Homo sapiens: one gene and its partner. The protein of the gene in region 1 interacts with the protein of each later gene in a pairwise test. Each region holds a gene or a part of one and is shown on either strand. Other genes may lie near its edges.

Region 1 (3,656 bases):
GGTCATGGACATCACTTTCCTTTTTTTTTTTTTTTTTTGGCATTGTGTACTAGACTGGTAGATTCTTTAATCACCATACCCTGTTCATTGGGAAAGAAAGATGGTCAGGCTTCCTTCTGCTTTGGTCCATAGCCTCTCAAATCTTATGGATGAATTTTCTGCTTCTGAGACTTAGAAGGTAGAAGCAAGACTTGCGGCAAGATAAATGAGATGGATTGGGACTTGGGTTTCAGCAATGCCTTCCTTATCTGTTCTATGAATAAACTGCTATGTGCTAATCCCAGCAGCCATTTGATTTATGTTGATGAGTAATATCTCTTTGGAATTGGTTGCAATTTGAGAAGAATTGTTAGAGCAGTAATTATAACCATAGAAATTCACCATATACTAATTCACGATGCTGGCTGCTCAAACGGTTCAGTTTTTTCCTCTAGAAATGTCTATTTGTGCATGAAAATGTTCCTAATTATCTCACTCCTTCACCTCACCTCTGAGCTACTCTGTCCCTTTGAGACCTTTTTTCCCCCACTCGTTATACATGGAGAGACCTTCACCTGTAAGCCCTACCTCTCAGGTCAGGGGCCATGTATCTTTGCCTTTGGACTCTCAAAACCTACTTGGAGCCTGGCATGAGATCAGTGTTTAAATGTCTATTGGAGGAATTAAAAAGATATCTCCATATCTGTTTATATTAGAAAATAGCACATGCACTGGACTCTTGGGCTGGTGTCTTCTCGCAGTATGTTCAAATCAACTAATTAATTTATTCAGCACCTGTTATGTGTCAGACACTGGGGAAATTTAAAGTAAAATAAGACACTCATCCTACCTTTAAGGAATTCACAGCCCTTAAAGGGGACAGCTGCCCTGGGTACAGCTATTGAATCAACAGGTAAGCATGTGACTTAGGGTCACAAAACTCTTTCTGAGTCTGGACCTGATTCTAAATGACCTTTGCTCTTATTATACTTATTACAATTTAAAATGTCACATCCTGCCACCCCAAATTCAACTCTTTTTCACACATAACCATTTGTACTATTACCAGGTTATAATTGTATCGTAAGTTTGAATGTTTTGACTAGACAGAGGGGATTAAAGCTAAGGGAGAAACTTCCTCACCTCTTCAATCATGTCCAACAGAGCTTTGTTACAGTTCTCAAATCGGGCTTTCCATGTGGCTGTGTCCTTTTCCAGCTTCTTCATTTTCTTAGTTGTCTACAGAAATTAGAGTGAGTGTGTGTTAATCTTGAAAAGTTAATATATCAAGGAAGCTATTAGCTCCATATGTGAGACCAGGAGAAGCCCTTTTGTTACCAGATGCTGAAGCAAACAAATGTTCAATGTCAAGAATGAAGATTGTAGCAGAGTCATAATTTATTTCTGAGCCGTCTAGGGCAGTGGCAAGCAAACTTATTTGCACCTGAGCCAATTCAGGAAATGGGAAATGACTTAGGGGCACATGGTTTTGTCACTGCTTTTTCTTTCATTTAAAAGAAGAATATCTTTATGGAGTTCCATGAACAAGCCTGTAATTTAGGATATTTACTGTATTGAATAGAAGACTATCACAGTGGGAAAGCTGGCATGGCCTTTTTAGCCATTAAAATGTTGATAATATCTGGGCACATCTGAGAAGTTGCTGCACAAAAGCAGTCTCTGTATTTTCTGGGTCTTTACATTTATAGAGTGAGGTAGAGTTCACAAAATGTGATTACATGCATTATTTGTTTCATCCTTGAAACAGTCCCACAAGGAAGGTTCTATTTTCACCCCCATTTTATAAATGGGGAAACCGAAGTTCGGAGAGGTAGAGTAATATTTAGGTGAATTAACAGAACAGTGGGGCTGCCATTCTTTTATTTCATTTAATGAAGCATATAGAATGTCTGGTGGTCACCAGGCCCTGGGCTGGGTACGAGGAAGTAAGAAGTGAATAAAATGCAGCCTGTGTTTTTCGAACCTGAGGCTACTCACATTCTTGTTTGTAGGATCTCTTCTTTGCTTAGATGAAGTGGAGAACGAGGCATGTACTCAGGTGCAGTTTTCCTGGATGAAACATAGCTGGGCACTCGCTGCTTGGTGCCAAGCTGCCTGAAGCTGGGTACCCACGGAGGCCAGAGGCTGGGCCCAAGACTGTCAGCCCCTGGCTCTACAGACAAGCTAGGTTTTTAATTTTGATCATATTTTAAATTAGTTAGTAGTTTGTAAACTTCTTTGTTTTCTTCTTTTTTGTTGTTGTTTGTTTTTCACTCTTTTGCCCAGGCTGGAGTGCAATGGCGTGATCTCGGCTCACTGCAAACTCTGCCTCCCGAGTTCAAGCGATTCTCCTGCCTCAGCCTCCTGAGTAGCTGGGATTACAGGCGCCTGCCACCATTCCTGGCTAATTTTTTTGTATTTCAGTAGAAACAGTGTTTCACCATGTTGGCCAGGCGGTCTTGAGCTCCTGACCTCAAGTGATCCACCCGCCTCAGCCTCCCAAAATGCTGGGATTGCAGGCATGAGCCACTGCGCCCAGCCAGTTGTTTGTAAACTTTAAGGTCATCAATCTTTTTAAGAATGTGGTGAAAGCTATGGGACCACACTTCACAAAAATGTGCATATGTGCATCATTTTTTTTTATGGTAATTTCTAGAGAGTTCTCAGGTCAACTACTAACGTCCATAAATGGACCCAAGATTAAGAACTCCTGATTTAATATTTATTCCACTCTTAAAACTACATAATTTTGAAAAACATGTTTTCCTGTTCTAATTTATTCCAATCTTAAAATGCTAGAATTTCAAAAAAAAATTAAGCAAATGGATAGTTCCATTCTGAAGTGGGAGAACTGTAACATTTAACAAGTGCCAATCTTCTTCAGGTTGCTCATTGTAAAATTTGTCATAATATTTTAAAAATATATTTTAAGAGGATGTTTTCTACACCTCAAAACCATTAATGCCAATCCCTGTTCGGAAACACAGTTCTGATGGCTGATTTTGTATTGGGAAGACACTGAACAAGCTTTAAACATTACATTAAATTATAATACTGGCACCTTATATTTGAAAAATACATGTAAAAAGTTAAAATCCCTTCCAAAATGTATTAATTTAACTTCACAATCTTGTGAGTTAGGCAGGGAAAGTAGTATCTGCATAGATTAAAAAAAATTAGAGGCCAGGCATGGTGGCTCATGCCTGTAATCCCAGCACTTTGAGAGGCCGTGGTGGGTGGATCACATGAGGTCAGGAGTTCGAGACCAGCCTGACCAACACGGTGAAACCCCGTCTTTACTAAAAATATAAAATTAACCGGACATGGTGGTGCATGCCTGTAATCCCAGCTACTCGGGAGGCTGAGGCAGGAGAATTGCTTGAACCCGGAAGGCAGAGGTTGCAGTGAGCCAAGATCGCACCATTGCACTCCAGCCTGGGCAACAAGAGCGAAATTCCATCTCAAAAAAAAAAAAAAAATTAGATTCAGGAAGTTAAGTGAATTGATGAGTAAGACCACTTGATGAGCAAGAACACACCAGAATTGAATTCAGGCTTCCATCTTCTCATTCAAGGCTCTGTCAGTTATATTACATTACATAAGTTAAATTCTCTTCTAAGAAGGTTCTTATAAGATGGTATTTCCTATTCTAACATTCTACTTTTGTATATTCATAT
Region 2 (3,656 bases), on another chromosome or scaffold:
ATGACTACTTGATATCTTGACAGCTAGACAGCCTTTTGTTGAATTTCTTCTTTGTTCAGCTTTTTTTTCCTTTTGTCATCTTTATGGTTTATAAGAAATACAGAATGTGATTTGGGAGGAAAAAAATCTACTTGAAGATTTTGCTAATAACATTTGGTAACAGCTCTCTGCTGTAAAAATCTTTGGGGGAAAAAAACTGGCTTGCCTACAGAGATTTCATAATTGGTTAGGCTTAACTGAATGCCAAAGGATTGAATCATGTTTTAAGGAGGGATCTTTGAATAGGTGACTTTGAATCCCATTCTACTTTCTGTTTGTATATTTGATTCCCTCATGGTAATTTAATTTTGATTTTTAAAAATATCTGGTTTATGAAGCTAGAACAAGTTATTAATGTTTATTAAGAATATAGACAGTATTAATATGGTCATGGTGTTGATGCATACTACAAGCTCAGTGAACCAGAAGGTACTGTTGCATAAACAGTTTGTTAATTTCGGCAAAAGAGTGACTTTAACAAATCTATTTTTCCCCCCCTAGATTTACCAACAGCATGAATCAAGAAAAGTTAGCCAAACTTCAGGCTCAGGTCCGGATAGGGGGCAAGGTGAGTGTGGCATAAGAAAAATTGATAGGAGAATGTATGATTACCAGATAGTGTTATTATTTCGGATTTGTGGTCATTGAAAATCTAAAATCTTTTCAATAATCAAGATCAAACCACATTCCAATTTGAAAATAACTTGTCTAGATCTAAAATAGGTAACTAGAACACTTTTCTCTCTGATGATGCAATGGAAATAGCCACATTTGTTTGAATCCTAACTCTTACCATCTGCTAGTTATATGATGTGAACAAGTTATCCAACCTTGTTAAGCTTCCACTTTCTTATCTGCAAAATAGAAATAATCCTACATAAGGTGTTTAAAGATTAGGGTAATATTTATAAAACACCTAATGTGGTGTCTAGCACAGAGTAGATGCTTAATAAATTATAGCTATTATTATGGTTAGACTCACTTGCAGGGCATACCAGATGTTAGGGTTACTTTGTCTTGACTGGATGTTACCTACTTGTACAGAGGTTTAGCTGGAGATGCTTAAGTTGATTATATATTTTGTTCATTGCCAGGTTTTCCTCACAAATTCTTACCTGTTCTTCCATGTTGGTGAATATGAATATCAGCTTTCTTATTCCCTGTACTTTTTAAAGCCTAAGGAAGAACTAGTTGTGAGCAACTGAAGTCTTTGATTCTCTTCAGCTGTGGCACCAGGCTCAAGGAGAATATTCTACCCATATCTCTGCCCAACACAATCTTTGCAAAAGTGAAAGAAAGAATAGTACTTACCTCAGACCTGAAGTGGTAGGTAGGACACTACTTTTTGTAGTGGGTCCCACTGTGTCATTTACACTGATGATAACCACAGTTCCTGGGGATGAGCACAAGGGAAGGGAAGGGAAGAAGAGCCAGTACTTTCTCCTTCTCCCACAGTGATACAGTTATATGAGTCTGGAGTTAGAATAACACACTCATGTAACCACAGTAGTCACATTGTAGCATCAAGTGTGATGTGATGTGCCAATGCAGAAACTAGGGATATTCAAGAACCATAGAATATACCTAGAAGAGCTTGATGTACCACATCGCCATTGTGTATTTTAAAACTGTGGTTGGTACATTCGATTTAGCTGTTGTATATTGAGCACCTACTGTGTGCCAGCACATAGAAGATAAACAAGATCACAGCTCTGCTTGGGAGAGAGATGCTCACAATTATAACGCAGAATAGTGAGTGTTATAATGAAGTACAAGGTACTCTTGCCTAGTGGAGACAAGGAAGTTATCACTGAGCTCTTGTTTAAAGGATAAACAATTTATCACTAGGCGAAAAGGTAATGGCTGGCAGAAAGGTAATGGGTGGTGGCTCACGCCTGTAATCCCAGCACTTCGGGAGGCTGAGGTGGGTGGATCAGTTGAGGTCAGGAGTTCAAGACCAGCCTAGCCAACATGGTGAAACCCTGTCTCCACTAAAAGTACAAAAATAGCCTGGTGTGGTGGCGCATACGTGTAGTCCCAGCTACTTGGGAGGCTGAGGCAGGAGAATCACTTGAACCCGGGAGGTGGAAGTTGCGGTGAGCCAAGATTGCACCACTGCACTCCAGCCTGGGCAACAGAGCAAGACTCCGTCTCAAAAAAAAAAAAAAAAAAAGAAATAGGTAAGAGGGTTCATGAGATAGAGTAAAAAGGGTTGTCATTTCCATACTTGCAAAGGCACATATGGTGCTAAGATAACACAGTACTTAATGGAATGGCTTGCTTTAATATGGTACAGCTATTCTTTTTTTTTTTTTTTTTTTTTTGAGACGGAGTTTTGGTCTTGTTGCCCAGGCTGGAGTTCAATGGCACGATCTCAGCTCACTGCAACCTCCGCCTCCTGGATTCAGGCAATTCTCCTGCCTCAGTCTCCTGAGTAGCTGGGATTACAGGCATATGCCACCATGCCCAGCTGAATTTTTGTATTTTTAGTAGAGATGGAGTTTCTTCATGTTGGTCAGGATGATCTTGAACTCCTGACCTCAGGTGATCTGCCCATCTCGGCCTCCCAAAGTGCTGGGATTACAGGCGTGAGCCACCGTGCCCGGCCTCTTTTTTTTTTTAAGATGGAATCTCTCTCTGTCGCCCAGGCTGTAGTGCAGTGGCGCAATCTCAGCTCACTGCAATCTCCGCCTCCCAGGTTCATGTCATTCTCCTGCCTCAGCCTCCCAAGTATCTGGGACTATAGGCACCCGCCAGCATGCCCGGCTAATTTTTTGTATTTTTTTCAGTAGACACAGAGTTTCACCATGTTAGCCAGGATGGTCTTGCTTGATCTCCTGACCTCGTGATCGCCCGCCTCGGCCTTTTTTTTTTTTTTTTTTTTTTGAGACGGAGTCTCACTCTGTCACCCAGGCTGGAGTGCAGTGGCGTGATCTCGGCTCACTGCAACCTCCACCTCCTGGGTTCAAGCGATTCTCCTGCCTCAGCCTCCTGAGTAGCTGGGATTACAGGCACGCGCCACCACGCCTGGCTAATTTTTGTATTTTTAGTAGAGACTTGGTTTCACCATGTTTGTCAGGCTGGTCTCAAACTCCTGACCTTATGATCTGCCCGCCTCAGCCTCCCAAAGTGCTAGGATTACAGGTGTGAGCCACCGCGCTCGGCCGGTACAGCTGTTCTTTAGTGTACGTAATGGATAGAGAATGGCAGGAAATGAAATGACCAGGTAGTTTGGGATTCCATTATACTTTTATATGCCATACTAAGGAGCTTGGAGTTTTATCCTATAGGCAGTGGGCAACTATTAAAGGATTTTAAGAAGGAAATGACTGCCATTTTAGAAAGGTAGCTGCTGGCGTTGTGGAAAATGGAACAAAATGGAAGTTTGGCCTATAGGCGAACAATTGAGACGCTATTGCTAGAGTCTAAGGCAGCAGTCCGCAATCTTTTTGGCACCAGGGACTGGTTTCGTGGAAGACAGTTTTTCCACGGATGGGAGGATGATGGTTTTGGGATAAAACTGTTCCACCTTAGATCATCAGGCATTAGTTAGATTCTCATGAGGAGTGCGCATCCTAGTTTCCTCGCATACGCAGCTCACAACGGTTCGCCCTCCT

The links.
Region 2: the proteins of TXLNB (region 1) and BTF3L4 interact in binary tests that used the Homo sapiens proteins (3 or more experiments, as listed by UniProt).

What each region holds. Positions count from the first base shown.
Region 1 is NC_000006.12:139,243,473-139,247,128, forward strand, and holds part of TXLNB (beta-taxilin), read right to left. Parts: intron 1,219-3,656; coding exon 1,123-1,218; intron 1-1,122. UniProt on the Homo sapiens protein: Promotes motor nerve regeneration. May be involved in intracellular vesicle traffic.
Region 2 is NC_000001.11:52,059,295-52,062,950, forward strand, and holds part of BTF3L4 (transcription factor BTF3 homolog 4), read left to right. Parts: intron 1-540; 5' UTR 541-553; coding exon 554-607; intron 608-3,656.